Linked DNA regions of Homo sapiens. The protein of the gene in region 1 purifies or fractionates together with the protein of each later gene. This does not show direct contact. Each region holds a gene or a part of one and is shown in the gene's direction. Other genes may lie near its edges.

The links.
Region 2: the proteins of LSR (region 1) and EPS15L1 purify together in Homo sapiens (affinity purification with mass spectrometry; 2 studies listed by BioGRID and IntAct, with this or other methods). This does not show direct contact.
Region 3: the proteins of LSR (region 1) and STON2 purify together in Homo sapiens (affinity purification with mass spectrometry; 2 studies listed by BioGRID and IntAct, with this or other methods). This does not show direct contact.

The regions. Positions count from the first base shown.
Region 1 is NC_000019.10:35,258,983-35,266,006, forward strand, and holds part of LSR (lipolysis-stimulated lipoprotein receptor isoform 2 precursor), read left to right. Parts: coding exon 1-82; intron 83-88; exon of another isoform or gene 89-839; intron 840-2,016; exon of another isoform or gene 2,017-2,420; intron 2,421-2,942; coding exon 2,943-2,999; intron 3,000-3,563; coding exon 3,564-3,710; intron 3,711-7,024. UniProt on the Homo sapiens protein: Probable role in the clearance of triglyceride-rich lipoprotein from blood. Binds chylomicrons, LDL and VLDL in presence of free fatty acids and allows their subsequent uptake in the cells.
Region 2 is NC_000019.10:16,356,971-16,363,994, reverse strand, and holds part of EPS15L1 (epidermal growth factor receptor substrate 15-like 1), read left to right. Parts: intron 1-2,010; coding exon 2,011-2,216; coding exon of another isoform or gene 2,217-2,225; exon of another isoform or gene 2,226-2,417; intron 2,418-7,024.
Region 3 is NC_000014.9:81,390,325-81,397,348, reverse strand, and holds part of STON2 (stonin-2), read left to right. Parts: intron 1-1,170; coding exon 1,171-1,455; intron 1,456-7,024. UniProt on the Homo sapiens protein: Adapter protein involved in endocytic machinery. Involved in the synaptic vesicle recycling. May facilitate clathrin-coated vesicle uncoating.

The DNA.
Region 1 (7,024 bases):
AGTGGTGTGTATTACTGCTCCGTGGTCTCAGCCCAGGACCTCCAGGGGAACAATGAGGCCTACGCAGAGCTCATCGTCCTTGGTGAGTGGGCCTGGGAAGGGGGAGGCATGGCCCTTCCTTTTGTCCGCTTCTGTTCTGTCTGCCCTCCCCTGTGTCCGCCCTCTGCCCTCCAGCTTACCCTCTGGGCTCTGTCGCCTGCTCTGCTCTCCCCCAGGCTCTGCCAGTCACTTAGGCTCCCCTGTGCCCTGCACCCCAGGCAGGGACCACTGGCCCACAGTGCCTCCAATCACCCAAGCCAAACTAAGAGAAGAGTGGAGACAATTGGAGACTCTGCCTTTTCAAAGTCTCATTTTTAAAAAAAATCCAGACTTGGGGTCCGGGTGCGGTAGTTCATGCCTGTAATCCCAGCACTTTGGGAGGCCGAGGCGGGTGGATCACTTGAGGCCAGGAGTTCGAGACTAGCCTGGCCAACGTGGCAAAATCCCGTCTCTATAAAAAATATAAAAGCCAGGCGTGGTGGTGCACATGCCTGTAATCCCAGTTACTCAGAAGGCTGAGGCATGAGGATTGCTTGAACCTGGGAGGCAGAGGATGCAGTAAGCCAAGATCAAGCCACTGCACTCCAGCCTGGGCGACAGAGTGAGACTCTGTCCAAAAAAAAAAAAAATCCAGACGTGGTCAGAGTCCATGGGCAGTGAATGAGGACAGTTGATGGTGTGCAAAATCGACCCACCTCTTGCTACATCCCCAAGGCCTCATCTCACCCGAGTCCCTCGCCAAAGCACAGCGGTTTTGCCGTGTGCCCTGCTGGGATGGCGCTGCATGGCACACACACTGTGTAAGTTTGAGTGCAGCTGAAACGAAGCCGATTCCAGACACCCAGGGGCAGGGCGGGGTGTCCGTGTGGCTGGGAGGCCTCCTTGTGTTAGGGGGATGTTGCCATCGGCCAGGTGCCCTGCTGTAAGCCAACACATGGAGTCTTGTATGACATGTGCTCTGCATGAGTGATGCCGCTGGGCTGTACACTGCCATCTTCACATGTGTGAATGAGCACGTGACTGGGGGGTACTTGGGCTGCAAGACAGAGTTCATGTGTGGGGGATGGAACACGTGCACCAGTGACCCAGGAACCTCTGCCTGTTCTTCGGTAAAATGCACCATTTGCATCAGCAGTTCCCAAAATTAGTCTCCAGGTCTATTTACACTCTAAAACATTATCGAGGGTCTCCAAGAGCTTTTGTTTGTTTCTGTGGGTTTTATGTCTATCTGTTGCTTAACATATTAGGAATTAAAATGGGGAGATTTTCCTTTTTTTTTTTTTTTTTTGAGATGGAGTCTCGTTCTGTCGCCCAGGCTGGAGTGCAGTGGCTCGATCTCGGCTCACTGCAAGCTTCACCTCCTGGGTTCACGCCATTCTCCTGCCTCAGCCTCCCAGGTAGCTGGGACTACAGGCACCCGCCACCACACCCGGCTAATTTTTTTTGTATTTTTAGTAGAGACTGGGTTTCACCATGTTAGCCAGGATGGTCTCGATCTCCTGACCTCGTGATCCACCCACCTGGGCCTCCCAAAGTGCTGGGATTACAGGCATGAGCCACTGCCCGGCCTTAAAATGGGGAGATTTTTCAAGCCCAAGATACACAAGGAAGACTGGGCAACATGGCAAGACCCTGACTCTACAAAAAATTTTAAAATTAACCAGGCATGGTGGCATGCACCTGTGAGCCCAGCTTCTTGGGAGGCTGAGGCAGGAGTATCGCTTGCACCCAGGAGGTCAAGGCTGCAGTGAGCCGTGACTATGCTACTGCACTCTAGCATGAGTGACAGAGACCCTGGCTCAAGAAACACAAACACACACACACACACACACACGCATATAGTCCATTAGGCATCAGGGCGATGATGGCATCAGGGAGCCTGGGAAACTCTACTGGACATTCATGGGAGAACAAGTGAAAAAGGCAAATAACATCTTAGTGTTATTCTAAAATTTCTTCTTTTGGCCTTGTGGACAGGACCACGCTTTGAGAGCTGTGACTGACATGCCTCTGTCCTGTTGCGAGGGCCTATAGTGCCAAGTGCATGAGCTCTGGGGAGGGCTTCGTGGGTGCAGAGCTGGGCCTGTGGAGGCCCCTCAGACACAACACTGGTGGGGCTCAGAGCTCCAGGGGCACTCGAGGGAAGACAAGAACCGGCTCTGAGATGCGTGAATGTGACAGTGCATGAGTAGAGATGGAGACCTTGTGGGTCCCAGAACCAGGACTGCATATGACTTTCATATGTGGGTATTTTTGCCTTCATGGGTCCCTTCCTGTTTTAAAAAAAATGTGTGATTATGTTGTCACAAAGAGTTTATTCCTGTATATTGTGTTAATTTGTGTTCAGATTTGTAAAGTAAAATTAAACCATTTCAGCCAGGTGTGGTGACACATGCCTGTAGCCCTAGCTACTTACCCCAGAGGCTGAGGTGGGAGGATCGCCTGAGCCCACGAGGTTGAAGCTGCAGTGAGCCATGATCACACCCCTGCACTCCAGACTGGGCGACAGAGCTGAGATCCTATTTCGTGGGCCCTAGGTCCCTGTGCCTGCTGGAACAGGACATCCCTATCACCGTGGTTGGAGCCCTTTGGGGTGCTAAGACCTATGAATGAGGGAAACTTAGGGTGCCCAAGCTGAGGTAGAGCCCTCAGAACCCCCTGGGATTTGTATTGGAGCCCTCGTGGCATAACACAGGTGGATTATGCAATGGGAGTTTCTTACCTATAAGCACCCACATGTGGGCGGGTGGAGGGTAGGAGCCATGCACTAGGGCTTCAGCCCCCAGCCCCTTCCCGCTTCAGGGCACACCTTGCACTTGGCCAGCCTGGAGCTGGGCTTTCGGGGGTGGCACAGCCTGGGCTGGCTCTGGCCAGCATAATCTGTTTCTCTTTTGTCCCTCCAGGGAGGACCTCAGGGGTGGCTGAGCTCTTACCTGGTTTTCAGGCGGGGCCCATAGAAGGTACGGGGGGTGGATCCTGAGTTGGGCTTCTCGGGAGCTCCCATACATCACCTACTGCTTCTGACTCTAGTTAGTATCCCCTTCCCCACTAAACCCTGCTCACTGTGGACCCCTCACTAACCTGGCCTGACTGTGGCTCTGAGGCATCTAGTGGTCTGGCGCTGGGCCTAGGCTAGGCTGGGCTGAGGAGAGCCTGGGGTGCAGGCCAGGGCTCTGTGACTGGCACCTGCGGTGCTCTTGAGGGTGTGGCGTCTGGGCAGCTGGCTCTCTCTTTGGTCTGGGGGCTGCAGTCTGTCTCCCTCTGTGCAGGCTGCCTCGTTTTCTGCCTTGTGTTTTTTGCACCTGGGGGAGGGCCGTAACTGGGGAATGGCCGGGATGGTAGAATGGGGAGTGTGCTGTGCCCAGCCTCTGGCACAAAAAATCCAGCCAGGGCTGCAGGTTCCTTGGTGAGCTTTGCAAATCGTCCCCGACCTCAGTGCTGGCTCCGCACCATGTACCCCTGCTGTGCCGTTAGCCCTGTTCCCTCCCAGGCCTCCGGGCTCAGGGCCTGTTGTCTTTCTGCAGACTGGCTCTTCGTGGTTGTGGTATGCCTGGCTGCCTTCCTCATCTTCCTCCTCCTGGGCATCTGCTGGTGCCAGTGCTGCCCGCACACTTGCTGCTGCTACGTCAGGTGCCCCTGCTGCCCAGACAAGTGCTGCTGCCCCGAGGCCCGTAAGTGTCCCGCTCATGGCCACCCTGGTTTGGGCAACATCCTGCATCCAAGGGAAGGAGGTGGCCATCCACCTGCCCCCAGGACAGTGGCGTTGGTCTGGAGGGTGTGAATTTAGCCAGTGGGGAGAAAGTAGGCTGAGGAGGGTCTGCTGTTTAGATTGTCGTTTACTTCCTCCAACTTTTAGTTTATTTTTATTTATGTTGTTCTTTTCTTTTGTAAGTATAATCCATACACATGGTAAAAATGTCCAACAGTACAAGATACTAGTCACATGGAAGTAAAGCCCTCTAAAAAAACCAAATCTTGGCTAGGCGCAGTGATTACGCCTGTAATCCCAGCACTTTGGGAGGCCAAGACGAGTGGATCACTTGAGGTCAGGAGTTCCAGATCAGCCTGGCCAACATGGTAAAACCCAGTTCTCTACTAAAAATACAAAAATTAGCTGGGCATGGTGGTGATCGCCTGTAATCCCAGCTACTCAGGAGACTGAGGCATGAGAATCGCTTAAACCCAAGAAGTGGAGGTTGCAGTGAGCTGAGATCACGCCACTGCACTCCAGCCTGGGCGACAGAGTGAGACTCTGTCTCAAAAAAAAAAGAAAAAAAAATGTTAAGTGAAAAAGTTAAGAAACCAAACAAGGTTTACAACACTACATGATTTAAGCAAAAAAAATTTTTTTTGTTTTAGAGAAAGGGTCTCATTCTGTCATCCAGGCAGTGCAGTGCGATCATAGCTCTCTGCAGCCTCAAACTCCCGGGTTCAAGCAGTCCTCCCGCCTCAGCCTCTGGAGCAGCTGGGACTGTAGGCACACACCACCATGCCCAGCTAATTTTTTGATTTTTGTTTTTTGTAGAGACGGGGTCTCAGTATGTTGCCCAGCCTGATCTCAAACTCCTGGCCTCAGGTGATCCTCCCAAGTCAGCCTCCCCAAAGTGCTGGGATTACAGGCATGTGCCACCATGCTGGCCAATTTTTAAAAATTTTCTGTAGAGACAGGGTCTTGCTATGTTGCCCAGGCTGGTCTTGAACTCTTGACCTCAAGTGATCCTGCCTCAGGCTCCCAAAGTGATGGGATTACAGGCATGAACTACCACACCTGGCCTTAAACTTAAGCAAATTTTTTTTTTTTTTTGGAGACAGTTTCACTCTGTCGCCCAGGCTGGAGTAAAGTGGCGTGATCTCTGCTCACTGCAACCTCCGCCCCCCGGGTTTAAGCTATTCTCCTGCCTCAGCCTCCCGAGTAGCTGGGATATAGGCGCCTGCCACCACGCCTGACTAATTTTTGTATTTTTAGTAGAGACGGGGTTTTGCCATGTTGGCCAGGCTGGTCTCGAACTCCTGACCTCAGGCAGTCCGCTCCCCCGCACCCCTACCTTGGCCTCCCAAAGTGTTAGGACTACAGGTGTGAGCCACCATGCCTGGCCAAATTTAAGCAAATGTTTGAAAACACATACCCACAGGAATGCTGCACATTTTACCCAGCTACTATGTCTAGGGTCGTATCTAGCACACCAGCATGGCTACTGTGGAGAGCTGGGACTGGATGTGAGATGAGAGCTAAAGGGGAAGTAAGCAAACCAAGCAGGGGAAGGTAAGAGAAGACAGAAGACAGAGAGAGAGGGACCTAACTCTATGAGAGGAGTCAGACATGTGCAATTGAAAAAGACTTGCTCCTGTCTCTCTTCTGTGAATGTTTGTGAATATCCCAACGGGACACTTTCACAGAGGAGCTGATTGACGTGGTCACAGCCATCAGCCTTGGGACACCAGACCACAGTGTGTACACTAAGTGGCACTGATGGACACTTCAGCATCCCTCTAGCTGCTGTCCCGTTTCCCCTCCTCGGGGACCACAGCTGTTGCCAGTCCTTGGTTTCCTTCAGGAGGGTGTCTGGGTAGACCAGCCTGTGTGCACACAGTCCAAGATACATGAACAGTGAAGTGCCAGGCAATCCTTGCAAGCATGGGCAGGTGGAGAGCTGAGGCCTGCTTGACACCTTCCTGCTCAGAAGCCCAGTGAGCAGTTTCCCTCCCTAGGGCTCAGTGTCATCCCCTATAAAATGGGGCTTATGGCAGAGCTCACCACACTGGGTGCATCTGGGGATTTGGCGAGCTCATGTGCACACCATTGAGCATGGGGCCCAACCTATATAAAATATTCTACGTCTGTCAGCTGCTGGGCACTGCCACTATCAGCCTCAGTAGTGACTGAGGGACAGGGCACCAGTCAGAGCCCTGGTGCACACAGAGTGACCCCAGAGAAGCAGCCTTCCCTCTCTGAGTCCTGTTTCCTTCTGTTAGGTCCTGACTTCATGGGTTGTTGTTAGCATTAAGGAAGTCGCTGGCTAATTTTATAGTCATTGAAGTCAGTGGTGTGCAACCTGGTTCCTCAAAGGATCACTTCCCTGAAAAAATTCCACTGCTCCCTGGAGGCTTATGCAGGCCATCCCATCCCCTCCCTCTTGTTGTGTTCAGCTGACAGCTTTTTGCTCAGTGAGTAAGTGTTAGGTCCATTTCACAGATGGGCTGCAACCAAGTTTGCAGTGAACCCACTAAGACCAGAGCTAGGGCCAGGACTAAATGCTGGTCCCAATGCCACATTCCCCTGTCCCCACACCACATTTCCTCCATCCGGAGACCCTGTTACCCCAACCCAGGGCCCCATTAACTCCCTGGCAGAGGCCCTGTTACATCTGCTGCTGCCACAGCCTCCGCCCACCCTTCAGGAGGCAGCAGGTCCCACTGCTGATGATAAAGTTGCAGGCTGCCTGAGCTAATGAAGGGGCTTCCTCTAGGCTGTGCACTTAGTCTTCTGCTTCCAAACCAAATCAGAGGTGAGGCACCCTCTCTGGGCCCATCTCTCTCCTCCATTTTCCTGTTGGGGTCCCAGGGAGGAAGCCACTTGCCTAGGGCCCAGGAATTTTGCAAGCCTCTTGCCCTAGGGAGGAAGGAAGGGAGGAGGATCTTACCTTGAACTGTCAAGCCTAGAGCCTGGTGGGGCAGGCAGAAATGGGTGCAGTCCATGAGTTAGAAACACTAGAGGAGACACTTTGCTGCTTGGCCGGGGCAGGCAAGTTAATTCCCGAGGCTCCTGCCACTGCATCTCAATCTGGAAGGTGACCAGGTGGGCAGGACCCACGTCTCCCAGATGACTCATTTTTTCTAGAACAGGGGCTTGGCTGCCAAAGAGGATACTTGATTTCGGCTTGTGGGGACAGTGGTGGACCCAGCATCTGGGCTTTATATAAAGGGCAGCTTTGTTGCCCTGTAAACACACAGACCATGGGTGGCCACTTCTTCCAGTAAGTTAGCT
Region 2 (7,024 bases), about 19 Mb from region 1:
CGGTGGAACCCTGTGGGACGGGCAGAGGCGGACAGGCAGGCCGCAAGGGTGGGCTGCAGGGGAGTTTGTCTCCGAGTCCTTCTGTGCAAACCGTGGGAAGGAAGACTGTTTTTCCTTGAATATGCAAAAAGAAAGCAGCAGTCCTTATGCTGGCCCAGAACTGCCGGTTGAGAGAAAAGTGAATTTCCATTTCCAGAAGTAGGGCTACAGGCAAGGGGGGGCTACGGGCCAGGTTCTCACTGGCCTATGCTGGGCACGGCGGTGCAGGACACTGAGTGGGAGGAGACTCCTGGACCCCAGGAATGTCACCTTGTTTGGCGCCCTCCTTCTCATTTCCACTTCACAGATAAGGAAACGGAGGCCAGCTGGGAGGAGGCACTTTCCCTTGCCGAGGCCCAGAGCTAAAGGTGGCAGATGGGGGCTGTAGCCCCGGAGCCCACAAGGACACCTGGGGCCTCAAAAATGAGGCCTGGGATGGCTGATCTGCTGGGGGAACAGAGGGAAAGGCTTTAGATCTGGGCATGGAGAGGGACCGAGGCTGGCCTGTGTGGGCTCGTTCTACCGGATGAGGAAGGCAGGTGTCCCAGGCTCAGGTGGTGGGCGGGGCAGGTGTGGCTGGGAGCCAGGGTGCTCTCTGGAGGTGCAGCCAGAGATCCAAGGTCAACCCTGGAGGGACAGGCAGTTCCTGGTTTTTTCTAAACATTAGCTTCGAAACTTCCAGAGTTAACACGCCGGAATCGTGTTGCATATTATTGAGCTTCCAGTCTGGGGTGCTGCGTGGACCACGTTGAATGCCCAGGGACTCCGTTGGGCAGATAGAGGGGTGTCAGGAGCATGGAGTCAGCCCGGCTGGCCTGCAAACTGCAGATGCTGGAAGGCCCGTCAGGTGGGACCTCCCGTCACCAAGCAGATCTTAACAGGCCTCTGCTTCTTGGTGGAATGTTCTGGTACATTGGCAGGATGCACTGGGAAAAGCTACCATCCTCAGGCCATGTCCCCCACACAGTGTCATTTTCCTCCATTTCTGAACACTTCTCTCTCACCTCCCTGTCAAGATATACCTTGCTGGGACCGGGCATCCTGGAGTTCCCTGCTTGGCAGAAGCCCAGAAAGGCCCAGATAAACGCTGCCCCTTGGAGCCACCAACACCAGAGGGACAGAAGTGGGGGCTAAAAAAGAACTTAAGGCCAGGTGCAGTGGCTCATGCCTGTAATCCCAGCACTTTGGGAGGCTGAGGCGGGCAGATGACTTGAGGGCAGGAGTTTGAGGCTAGCCTGGGCAACATGGCAAAATCCCATCTCTACTAAAAATACAAAAATTAGCCACGCATGGTGGCTCATGCCTGTAGGAGGCTGAGGTGGGAGGATCGCTTGAGCCCTGGAGGCCAAGGCCGCAATAAGCCATGATTGCACCACTGCATTTCAGCCCAGGTGACAGAGCAAGACTCTGTCTCTGAAAAAAAAAAAAAAAAAAAAAAAAAAAAGAACTTAAACCTCAGCATGGCAGAGCTGTGTGCAGACCCTTATAACTAACACACCGAATAACCATACCACGTTGTGAAACTAATTCCTCCTTTTCATTTGCAAGTAACTCTCCCCTCTGCCTTTTTTTTTTTTTACTGTTAGAAGCTTGCAGTGTATTTTTCTGCTCAGCCATGATTTTTTAAATTAGTATGTTAATAAATGTGTTGCCATGCTAAAATGAATCTGTTTGAAACGTACCTGCATGCAAACTATTCTAGGACAACTCAAGTTTTAGCTGCTCTGTGTGCGTTGTGTATGGGAGTCATCTGAAGTGTTTTTCCTGTGTTGTTCACAACCCGTTAAGCCCCTGGGATAAAGCTGATTAAAACTGGGATTCCCCAGGGTACCCCCGTCCAGCCTGTTAGCCAAGTTACAAGCTTTTCTCAGAGAAGCGCCCCGGGCTTGTGCCCACCAGCATTCTGCTCTGTCCGGGTGAGTAACTCATATTTCTTTCTTTCTCCTTTTTTTTTTCTCCTAAACTTTCCAGGTAAAAGTACACCTGTAAGCCAGCTTGGTTCCGCAGACTTTCCCGAGGCCCCCGATCCATTCCAGCCACTCGGGGCTGACAGCGGCGACCCGTTCCAAAGTAAAAAGGGGTTTGGGGACCCGTTTAGTGGAAAAGACCCATTTGTCCCCTCCTCTGCAGCTAAACCTTCTAAGGCCTCTGCCTCGGGCTTTGCAGACTTCACCTCTGTAAGTTGAGTCCTCCGCCTCCGGGCCACCCCACTCCCTTCCGCTTGCAGCTTCCCTGGGATTTTTGTCTCCTTTTAAAGGCAAACCTCCCAGCTTCTTTAGCCTCTTGGTACCTCACACTCTCTGTCCCTCGCGTTATTTATTCTACACTGCCACTTCTGTAAGAAAAACAGTTTCTCAATAAAAAAAAAAAGAGCCGCAGTTTGGATGCTCTATCATAAGGGCACGTTTTCTTCCAGCAGGGAGGCGGGACCTATCTGTCCTTCACGGTAGATTCATTGTATTATTTCTGACGCACCGAGGCTGTTGTGTTCACTGGTTTTTGGAAGCCAAGATGTCAAACACTTCCGAAGTATGAAAAGAAGATTGCGAAAGTTACATTAGGGTTCTGCTGTCCCCAAAAAGCCCTTTGTGCACAAGTTCTCACAGTCCCGCCCCATGCATTTTGTGCCACAAGTGCAAATTGAAGGACTTCAGGCAGATCGCGCCAGGGAAGAGCAATTTGAAGTTTTTTTTTTTTAAAGCTTTTAAATTTCAGTTACCAGCTCCAATGAAAAAAGAAATCCAGTCTAGAACAGCCACTCTGAAAGCCAAAACAAAAAGAGCTCCAAAAAACTGTTGAGCAAAGTTAAGTGCCTTTTCGGAAGCAAATCTCGGGATTTCGAAAGCCTGGCTTTGTTTTTCTCTGTGTGAAAAAATATTCCAGATTGTAACATGCCGTCGCTTCAAGGAGTTTTTAGCAGCTTCCTTGATACATGAAAATCTTGTTCTCTGAAAGCTTCAGGTGTTGTCTTCCCAGAATTGGTTTCACTATGTGTGATGCCCTCGCTTTCTTCCTTTGGGCTTGTTAGTTCCTTCATCATTAGGTGTGAGATGTGTTATTTATAGATGCTTCGACTCCTGGGATGGCTCTTTGAACACAGCCCTGCCATGTCAATGCACAGAAAGCACCCGATTTGTTTCTGAGCCGTCTTGATAATCTCTACCGTGCACAGCTATCCTATGGCTTATTTGTCAATTTATTTATTTTAGTGACAGGGTCTCGCTGTGTTGCCCAGCCTGGTCTGCATTGGCGCGATCAGAGCTCACTTGTAACCTCGAATTCCTGGGCTCAAGCGATCCTCCTGTCTTGGCCTCCTGAGTAGCTGGGACGACAGGCGTGCAACACCACGCAAGGCTAATGTTTAATTTTTTTTTTTTGTAGAGGTAGGGTCTTGCTGTGTTGCCTGGGCTGGTCTGGAACTCCTGGCCTCAAGCGATCCTCCCACCTTGAAGTACTGGGGTTACACGTGACTGGCCCATGTGGCTTATTTAAATCGCCCAAGACCCTGACCTGTTTCTGGCTCTTGGTGACCTATAAATATTTTACAACGGCAGTGAGTTTGATTTTGTTGACCCTAGATGCGCACTGGGGGTCTATACAAAATGGTGACATTGTTAATAAAAGCCAGAAACAAAACCTGCTTTATCTAGAGTTTCTTGAATAGCCCTTCATTTATTTTCTGGTGGAAAAATATTAAACGCTGATTTAAAAAAAACAGAACTCTTCACACATGACTCAGGTACTCTGTCTTGGGTAGGGAAGAGTTAGGTAAGTGGGGTGAACGGCAGCTTGAAGAAATGACTGTTCTCTTTCTGAAATTCATAATTCTATTTCCTGTGACCCCAACCCGCAAAGGGCTCGTTTTTTCGAAAAGCATAAAAAAAAAAAAAACACCCAAGGTTTCAAGGTATCATTTGGCTTAGCATTTCTGGTAGTTCCAGAACAATTGTTAACTTCAGTTTTAAAATAGCGCCAGCCATTTTATCACCCTCATCTCCTGGTGGGAAAGCAAATTCCACCCAGGCCTGGATGCAGCCCTGTTGTTTTCTGTTTTTTTTTTTTTTTTCCCTAAGTTTTTGGTTTTTACATATTTGGAGATGAGTCTCGCTCTGTTGCCCAGGCTAGAATGCAGTGGTGCAGTCACAGCTTCACTGCAGCCTTGACCTCCTGGGCTCAAGCAATCGTCCCACCTCAGCCTCCCACGTAGCTGGGACCTCAGGCGCGCACCACCACATCTGGCTAATTTTAAAATGTTCTGATAGAGACAAGGTCTCACTTTACTACCCAGTCTGGTCTTTGAACTCTGGGCTCAAATGATCCTTCTGCCTCAGGCTCCCAAAGTGTTGGGATTACAGGCATGAGCCCCTGTGCCCGGCCTGTTTTCTGTTTAAAATCACTTTTCCCACTGCAAATACCCCAGTTTTTTTCCAGAGGAAATGATCAGATAGTGTACTTCAGCCACTCTGAAGGGATGGGTTGAGTGAAGACAGGACCCTTAATTGTTTTTGTTTGTCCCCTTGGGTCGTATCATTGTCTAAAATCATCCATAACCAGCTCTCCTCTGGGGACTCAAGATGACGTCTCTCCATGTTCACGGCATTCGGGGGCTCAGCCGATCAGCTGGTGGTTTCTGGGTTCACTGGATCTTGACTATTTGTGCTAACTTAGAAGAGGGCACAGCTGCTTCCTCTGGTTTGAATGATTCCACTTCCCTGAGCAAATGCCAAGAGGGCTGTCTGACTGCCCGGCAGATTGGCAGCGTGACTCTTTCAGCGTGGACGTTCTGAGACTGCTGTTCAGGGCATGTTTTTACCTGTGCAGGAGCAGCCCAGTCCATGCTGGCAGTCAGGGGGGCCCAGGTCACCCGCACCTCACTTGTGGAGGTGGTGCCCCGGCGGTGCCTCTCCAGAACCCTCTAATTTACAAACCCCAAATTTCCATCAATGGGTTATTTGCGTGTGTGGCTGTTCCCGGGAAACCTCTTCCCTCTCTGGTATTTCTTTAAAAGCAGGCCTTTCTGTCTCAGGCAAATGTGTGTATTAGGAAGTGGCATTTCTAGGTTAGCGGAACGGTTCTTTTGGAAGTTCGCATTAAGAGTAGTGCAAATACCAGATCAGCTAGGCCGTGCTTCGAATTATTGAAGGAGTTGGATACAATTTCATTGTCGGTAAATGAATGAATGGGAAGTGGCTAGGCATGTCCTGCACATGGTGGGGTGGAAGTGCCATCAGACACCTTGGAGCGCCAGTGAGGACAGGTGCCGGGCGCCTCCCGGGGCCATCCCATCGCCCAGCGTGCCGAGCTGTCTAAACTGCGGATTTCCAAGAGGCTGCTGAAATGAACCACTTATTTGCTTCTGAAAATGAACCCCATCCTGAGTGGGCAGGCCTCGGCTAGGGTGGTGTCATGCCCCTACGGTGTCTCGGTTCCATGGTAATGCCAGAGGGAAGCAGAAATCAGAGCCAGTGTGTTTCCCAGCCACTATTGGTTTTGCATCGGCCACAGACATCCAGATTCTGGCCCGTGTGACCCACCCAGATACGAGAACTAGAAGGTGGCCCCGTCCAGGGCTAAGACAGCAGACACAGAGGGAGCTGCGGAGTCCCCTTTCAGGAGAGCTCTCCCAGGCCTCACAGCCCAGCGTGCCTCCTAAGTGCATACAGACCTCACCAATGCAAGTCTCCACAGTGGATTCGTGAGCTGGCCTTGAACCGGTCGACTCTGAAGGCACCAGGAACTTTCCTGCTGACACCTTTCATTTGGAAACACAGACCCGTCAAGGGAAGGCGCTTCAGTGACACTGTGACACGGGGGCTCAGTGGGGCCAAAGGCGGCCAGAGGGCTGTGGTTCAGACCCAGCAGGCCGGTTACTTGGTCGTTCCAGGCTTTGATTTGGATCCAGGCGAACATTACTGTCAGCTCCCACCCACCCTGTCCTCAAGGCTGGTGGAGGGTGAGGTCCCCGTCAGCTGCACTGTCTCCCTCCCACTGTTGTCAGCAGCACCATGGAATAATTTCCACCTGCACTTGTTGGTTTTTCCTTGTTTTTCTCCCCATGAGGTGTTGGAAAATTCCCCAAACTGGGGCGGGGGGGATGCTTATCTGTGCCCCTGGCAGTGACACAATGGCGGGGAGGGAGTCCGACCTGGAGACTCATCAGACCCCCAAGTGTTTAGCTGGGCAGTGCCTCTTTAAGAAGTCAAGACTCAGCCCTTCCTCCCAGGGACATCTTTTCTTGATACTGACACTCCGCCTGTCCCCCATCTGGGTCCTGAGGCCAGCTAGAGGGAGGCCTCCAGGGCCCCGCATCCCCCTCACTGCCACATCTGCCTCCCAACCAGGTTCCTTGCATTTATCTGCTCCTGCACCTTGCCCAGTCCCCCCAGCCCTGCCATCTGGCCCTCCTCTCTCCTGCTTCCCGCTCATGCCACCATCAAGCCGTGAAATATCCAGACGCTGCCAATCTGATCACCCAACTCGCTCGCCCAAGGAGCCTCCACGGGGAAATCCCAGCTCCTTCCTGGGGCCCACGAGCCCCTCCTCAGTCTGGCTTATCCCACCCCACGCTTCATCCTGGCTACCCCAAGGTCGGGCACTGAGCCTCACACCCAGAACCTCGCAGGGACGCATCCTCCCTGTCAGTTTCACCTAGTATCCTGCTCCCCACAGGCCTGGGGGGGAAAAAGTCTAGAGTGTGAGCCACCCCTTCCCTGGCCTCAGTGTCCCCAGCTGTCAGAGGGATGAGATGACAGCGGGCCCACCCCCAGGTTGTCACGCAGACCTAGTGCTGCGTGTGGTGGAGAGGCCGTGAGTGTTCCTGTGTGCTTCTTTCCCCCACCTTCCTGGGTTAGTCTGCAGGGCCCTCCTCGAGAGCCTGGGTCCTTGGGTCCTGGATCGTTCTGGGATTGTTTGTATATTTCTGCTCCCAAGGGTGCCTGGGGAAGAGCCACTGCGCATGTTATCTTTGGTGTTACTCCAGTGTTGA
Region 3 (7,024 bases), on another chromosome or scaffold:
TTCTCCTGTTGTGTTTAATTTTTTTCATGTGGCTACTAGAAAATTTAAAATTACATATGTAGCTCACATTTTATTTCTGTTTGACGTGCTGTAGAGGCTTTGAATACTTGCAGATGGACCGGTTGGCTAGTGATGGGAGAAAAGATTTTATATTAATTATTTGATTAAAAACCTTTATACAGAAAAATTGACTTCTTTTGTTGTACAGCTGATGAATTTCAGCACATGTATACATTTGTGTATCTACCACCATAATCAGGATATAGTTTTTTTGTTGTTGTTGTTGTTTTGAGACGGAGTTTCGCTCTTGTTGCCCAGGCTGGAGTGCAGTGGTGCAGTCTCAGCTCACTGCAACCTCCGCCTCCTGGATTCAAGCGATTCTCCTGCCTCAGCTTCCCAAGTAGCTGGGATTACAGGCATGTGCCACCATGCCCGGCTAATTTTGTATTTTTAGTAGAGATGGGGTTTTGCCATGTTGGTCAGGCTGGTCTCGAACCGCTGACCTCAGGTGATCCACTCACCTCGGCCTCCCAAAGTGTTGGGATTATAGGCATGAGCCACTGCGCCCGGCCAGGTTTTTTAATTTCCAAAAAAAAAATTTTTGAAGGCTGTTTAATTTTCTGGGGCCAATCAAGTGATACAGTGCTGCAGAAATAACCTCTAGGTTACATTCAGCTGGTCATTAGTGCACATGGGTTTGCACCTGGTGTCCTGTGGCTGTGTATAGCTTAGACTGCAAAGAATTTGAAATTTGAATTTGAATGTCTTCAGACAGAAGTGCTCTTGTTCAGCCACAGTCCCCACCAGTCCCTTTTGCCTTTCACTTGTCTCACTTGACTCAGGTATATTTCCTACTTGACCTCTGTAAGCACTTTCCTTTGTGACCCCCAAGCACTGGAGTAGATGCTGGCATAAGAATAGTGAAGAAGGCTCCTAGTCTCTGCCTGCCAGGATACTGACTGGAGACATGCTGAGCTTACAGCATTTACACATGATTAGGGAAACAGTCATTTAACATGCAGTCAGATGGGTGTGGCTCTTTCTTCTCCCCACTCACTGCAGTGGCGAGTCATGCGGGCACCCCATGGTCATCCTTAGTTTTTGCCTCCATGAGATGGCTCTGAAGAGCGGCCTTCCTCACATGATGGTGGCGTCTGGTATCTGTTTCAGGGGGCACGGAAGAGCACCTCCCAGGACTGTCATCTTCCCCAGACCAGTCCGAGAGCTCCTCCGGGGAGAACCATGTGGTGGATGGAGGCTCTCAAGACCATTCCCACTCGGAGCAGGATGACTCCTCTGAAAAGATGGGCCTCATCTCTGAAGCAGCTTCCCCACCTGGGAGCCCTGAGCAGCCCCCACCTGACCTGGCCTCGGCCATCAGCAACTGGGTTCAGTTTGAAGATGACACACCCTGGGCCAGCACATCTCCACCTCATCAGGAAACAGCTGAGACAGGTGAGGAGGTAGGAAGGGCCCGGCTTGGGTTTGTGGTCAGCAGGGATGCTTTTCAGTGAGAGGTCTATAGGGCTGCCAGGATTCCATTTCATCTGCCCCCTAACCCTGAAGCACTGGTCGCATAGGGGAGAGCAGACGGAGTTCTCATCTGGTTTAATTCTGTAACTTGTTTTTGTTGACATAAGCATACAAAAGAATGTATGTGTTCTAGGACATTTCTAGTCCTTTACTCTTGTCCCTGGCTGTTGACTTGTCTTTAAAATAATGCATATATATTTTTCTATTAGGGATTGGAATTATATTTACTCAGCCCCTAAACTGTAAGCACCTTACATACAGAAATGAATGTTTCTGCTGGGTGCGGTGGCTCATGCCTATAATTTCATCACTTTGAGAGGCCGAGAAGGGTGGCTCACTTGAGGTCAGGAGTTTGAGACCCACCTGGCTAACACGGAGAAACCCCGTCTCTGCCAAAAATACAAAAATTAGCTGGGCGTGGTCGTGCACTTCTGTAATCCCAGCCACTCAGGAGGCTGAGGCATGTGAATTGCTGAACCTGGGAGCGGAGGTTGCAGTAAGCTGAGGTCGCGCCACTGCACTCCAGGCTGGGTGACAGAGCTAGACTCTGTCTCCAAAAAATAAAAACAGAAATGAATGTGTGTTAAAGTGTGGACCACTGACCATGTCTAACCAAGTCACCAATAGGATTTGTTAAACATGGATATTCTCACACTTCAGAACTCTTGAATCCAAATCCTCATGGGTAGGGATGGTTGTTCATGAGAAATCTCTTATTTTGTGGCATTTCAATGGCCAGAAGCTGCACTGGGGAGCTTAGTAAAGCTGTAGGACTTGTTAGTCCCCATCCTGGTGACCTGGCTACTTCTTTATTGTGCACTGAAGTATGCCACAGGTGATTGGATAAGCTTTGGGACTGTATTAGTTTTCTATTTGCTGCTGTAACAAGTCACCACAAGTGTAGTGGCTTGAACAACATAAGTTTATCATCTTATGATTCTGTATTTCAGAAGTCCATCATGGGTGTCACCGGGTCAAAATCAAGGTGTTGGCAGGGCTGTGTTCCTTTCTGGAAGCTCTAGGGGAGAGTCTGTTTCCTGGCCCTTCCCAGCTTTCAGAGGCTGTCAACATTCCTTGGCATATGGCCCCTTCCTCTATCTCCAAAGCCAGGAATGTGGCATCTCTTTGTGCCTTTCTTCTGAAGTCACATCTTTCCCTGACATCTGCCTTTGTCTTCCATTAAGGACCTCTGTGGTTATGTTGGGCTCACCAGGCATTAAGGACCTCTGTGGTTACACTGGGCTCACCGGGATAATGTCCCCATCTCAAGGTCCTTAACATAATCACATCAGTAAAGTTCTTTTGCCATATAAAGTAACATATTCACAGGTTCTGGAAATCAAGATGTGGACATCTTGGGGTAGAATGGGAGGCATTCTGTCTACCACAGAGACCTACTAGCAAAAAGCAGGGTTGATATATTTTTCTGTTGGTGTGTTAAATGTTTTGCTAGTGTCACTTTTTAAGGCTGATTCCTTTGTTTTTCAGTGTGTTTTCAATACTAAAATGATTTTAAGAAAATATAAAACAATTCTGTAACAAACATTTATATTTTTACATAATAATTTGCACATTTATGTCTATTTTTTCATATTTGAACATCAGATTTCCTTTTTTTTTTGTTTGAGATGGAGTCTTGCTCTGTTGCCCAGGCTGGAGTGCAGTGGTGCAATCTCAGCTCACTGCAACCTCTGCCCCTGAGGTTCAAGCAATTCTCAGGTCTCAGCCTCCTGAGTAGCTGGGATTACAAGCACCCATCACCATGCCTGGCTAATTTTTGTATTTTTAGTAGAGACAGGATTTTGCCATGTTGGCCAGGCTGGTTTCGAACTCCTTGACCTCAGGTGATCCACCTGCCTTAGCCTCCCAAAGTGCTGGGATTACAGGCGTGAGCCACTATGCCCAGCCTAAACATCAGATTTCTGCATGAATTGTCATTGAGTCATGACTCTCAGTGCAGCGTGGAAGAAGTGACAGGTCCAGACAGGCTTCCCTTACTGAACACCTAACACTGAGAAGGCTCTGGGCTAAGTGTTGATGCATGTAGGGAAAAGTTACGGAACACTGGGCAGTGAATGAGCACAGAAATAATGTTCCTTCTGCTTAATATGATACATTTACTGCATACTTATTGTCTCAGTTTCTGTGCTCAGTGCCTTAGCTACTTCATATCATGTACTCCTTACAACAATTGTATGAGGAAGGTATTAATATTAATCCATATTACACATGGTGGAGGAGACTCAGCCAGAAGTGGGCTTTGGGAATTCAACCAAGATTGTGTGCTAGGAAATGGCAGGAGAGCTTCCGCACCAGGCTGACCGGCCCCAAGGTCTTGGAGCAGCCTTCGGATGCCCTGTGCTCTCCTTCCGTTTGCCTCACTCTTCCTGCTGCTGCTGCTGCTGCTGCTCTAGTATCCTCTGCTCCCTCATTACCCAGGAGGCAGTGGGGGCAAGGAATGGAAGGTAAGTGATGGGTGGGGTGCTCTTTCTCCACTTTGCTGCCCTAAAATGGCCGTGCCTTCAGGTCATGGATTATATTCATGCCATTCAGATTCTTTCACATTTTATCTTTAGCCTCAAAGATTTCCTGATTGCTCAAAACTATTTATATGACAGTCAATTTGCTCAACTCTTCACTGATTTTTCCAAAACTAATTTTGAGATTAGTCATAATTATGTTGCCCCCATCTGACTGAGGATCTTATCTTGTGACTGACAATGCTTTTGATATATTGTGAAAGCTTTACCCTTTAAGGCAGCAATTCACAGTCTGGCCCATAGACCTTGCTGTCTCCTGAGACCCTTTCAAGGCGTCTTTGGGGTTAAAATCATTTTCATTCTAATTCTAAGATGTTATTTGCCTTTTCACTGCATTGACATTTGCATTGATGGTTAAAAAATAACAGCAGATGAAACTTTTGGCCATTGTCTACTCACAGTAAAACAAAATGTATATTTCACCCAATAATATCCTTGATGAGGCAGTAAAAATTATTAATTTCTTAAAATTGTGATTCTTGAGTATGTCTTTTTAACATTCTCTGTGACAGATTGGGAAAAAATACATGAAGCACTTTTGCTCCATATCAAATTGTAATAATTGTCTTGAAAAAAAAGTTTTTAAAAAAATATTTAAGAATTCAGTTTAAAAATTAAAGTTATTTTAAAATTATTTTTTAAAATCACATAATGCAAAAAATTCTTAATGAACAAAATATCAGTACTTTAAAGACAAGATTCAATTAACACTTTCATGACTATGCTACACTTGGCCCACCTGGACCTGGTGTTGCAGGAATTTTCCTAAAGTTCAGCTAAAGATGGGGTCCTTGTCCATCCCACAGCCATGAAAATTCAGGCTCACAGATGGTTTGAAGGGTAAGTAAAGCAGGGCTTTATTGGGTGAAAAGGAAAAAAGAGGGGAAACAGGGACTCTCAGCGAGGCCAGAGTTCATCTAGAGCACTTCCGGACCGCGCCCAAATCCCAGGTTCCACACAGGAAGAGGAGGGGCCAGGCTCTTCCCTGCTGCAAGTGGCACAAACTTCCGCAGCTCCACCCCAGTGCACAGGCCAGTTGGAGTTTTTCTGGGAACCCCCTCCCCTCTGGCTGTCTCACTGGTTCTAATAAAGCTTTATTTACAGAGATAGTCAACCTGTGAGCTGTAGTTTGCTGCTTTGATTTTGAGTTGATATTTTTAACATATTGCCTTAAAATGTTACTTTGATTACTGAGTTTTTTGGCACCCTCTTAAATTTTACCTCCAAGGCAAGTGTGTCACTTGCCTTAGCCTAATCTCAGCCCTGCATTGTCCTAAGAATTTTAGATGTATTAATATTACTAGAGAATAAATCAAGAAATGACAGTGTTCAAATGCATGAAAGCATAATTTTGAAAACTGCTCAAGTATGAATAATTCCATCTGTTCATATGTGTGAAAATTTAACTCAACCCTGTGGAGATGGAGTTTTCTACCTTAGGAGGGTCCTGTAGGATGGGTTCCCAGCAGACTTGATGCCCAGTCTGTAGGCAAGAAGCAGAAATAAACCATGTGGAGGGCCAGCCCCACCTCAAGAAGTGTTTCTAACCTGGAAACCCAAGGAGCATAGGGGACGGTGCACAGCATTAGAGTGGTAAAGAAAATGGTTCAATTCCAAATTTTCTGCCAATACCCAACTTGACCCATCAATGAACCTAAACTGAATCAAAAGCTGCAGAGTACATTCCTATTACCCAAACTAACCTCTCCCACATAAGCTAATTCCCTCTTGGGTTTCCTCCCATGGATTGTGTTTAACAATAAGGATAGAGTAATTGGCAGAGCTAAGGCCAATTACACAGGAGAGACTAGGCGTTAGCCCCCCACTCCTGCCCCCACATAATGGATAATGTAGACATTCCCCAAGTTACACAGTCATTCCATTCAGGAGGCTGTTGTGCAGCTCAGATTTTAATTTGAATCCAAAATGTTTGAATGCATGTGCTGTATATTGCAATAATACCACATATGTAACTGCAGGCATTATGCAGAAATAACACAGATGTTTGCAGCAAGTAGAGACAGTGTGAGACTTGCTGCAATCACTGCTACCTGCTCTGTTCTTCCAGTAATACTAAGCTGAGTAATGGCTCCCAAAGACATTAGGTTGTCCTCCCTGGAACCTATAAATATTATCATATTTGGGAAAAGGGTCTTTGTAGATGAGAGTAAGGATTTTGAGATGGGGAGATAATTCTGGATTATCTGTGGGCCTTAACTGCAATCACATGCATCCTTATGAAAGTGGCAGAGGGCGATTTTGCTTACACAGAAGAGAAGGCACTGTGAAGATGAAACAGAAAGAAATTTGAAAATGCTGATCTTAAAGATTTTAGTGATGAAGCCACAGCCAAGGAATGCCGGCAGCCACCAGAAGCTGCAAGATACAAGAAACAGATGCTTCCTTAAAGCCTCTGCGGGGAGTGCAGTTCTGCTGACATCTTGATTTTAGCACAGTGATTCTCATCTCAGACTCTGGCTTCCAGAACTGTGAGAGAATAAATTACTGTTGTTTTGAGATACCAAGTTTGTGGTAATTTGTTACAGCAGCCATAGGAAACTAATGTACTAAGTCTGTAAAATCTTAAAATGGAACCCTTTGCATAAGGCTGAGAATGAGTCAGTCTGAATTAGGGGAGCATCTGTAAATCTGTAATGATGCAGGACTTTTTGTTTGTTTGTTTGTTTGTTTGTTTTTTGTTTTGTTTTTTGAGACGGAGTCTCGCTCTGTTGCCCAGGCTCTGGAGTGCAGTGGCGCGATCCCAGCTCACGATGCAGGGTATTTCTTAAGGAGATGTGTGCATGTCAGTGTGCTTTGTCCCTAAACCTTACAGCTCCTTATAATTTACTCATTGAGTCACCAGATATTTACTAAGCACTTCCTCTGTATAGTTCTGCTAGGTGTGGATATTCAAAGACATAGCGCAGTGCTCAGAATTGAGCAGAAATCCA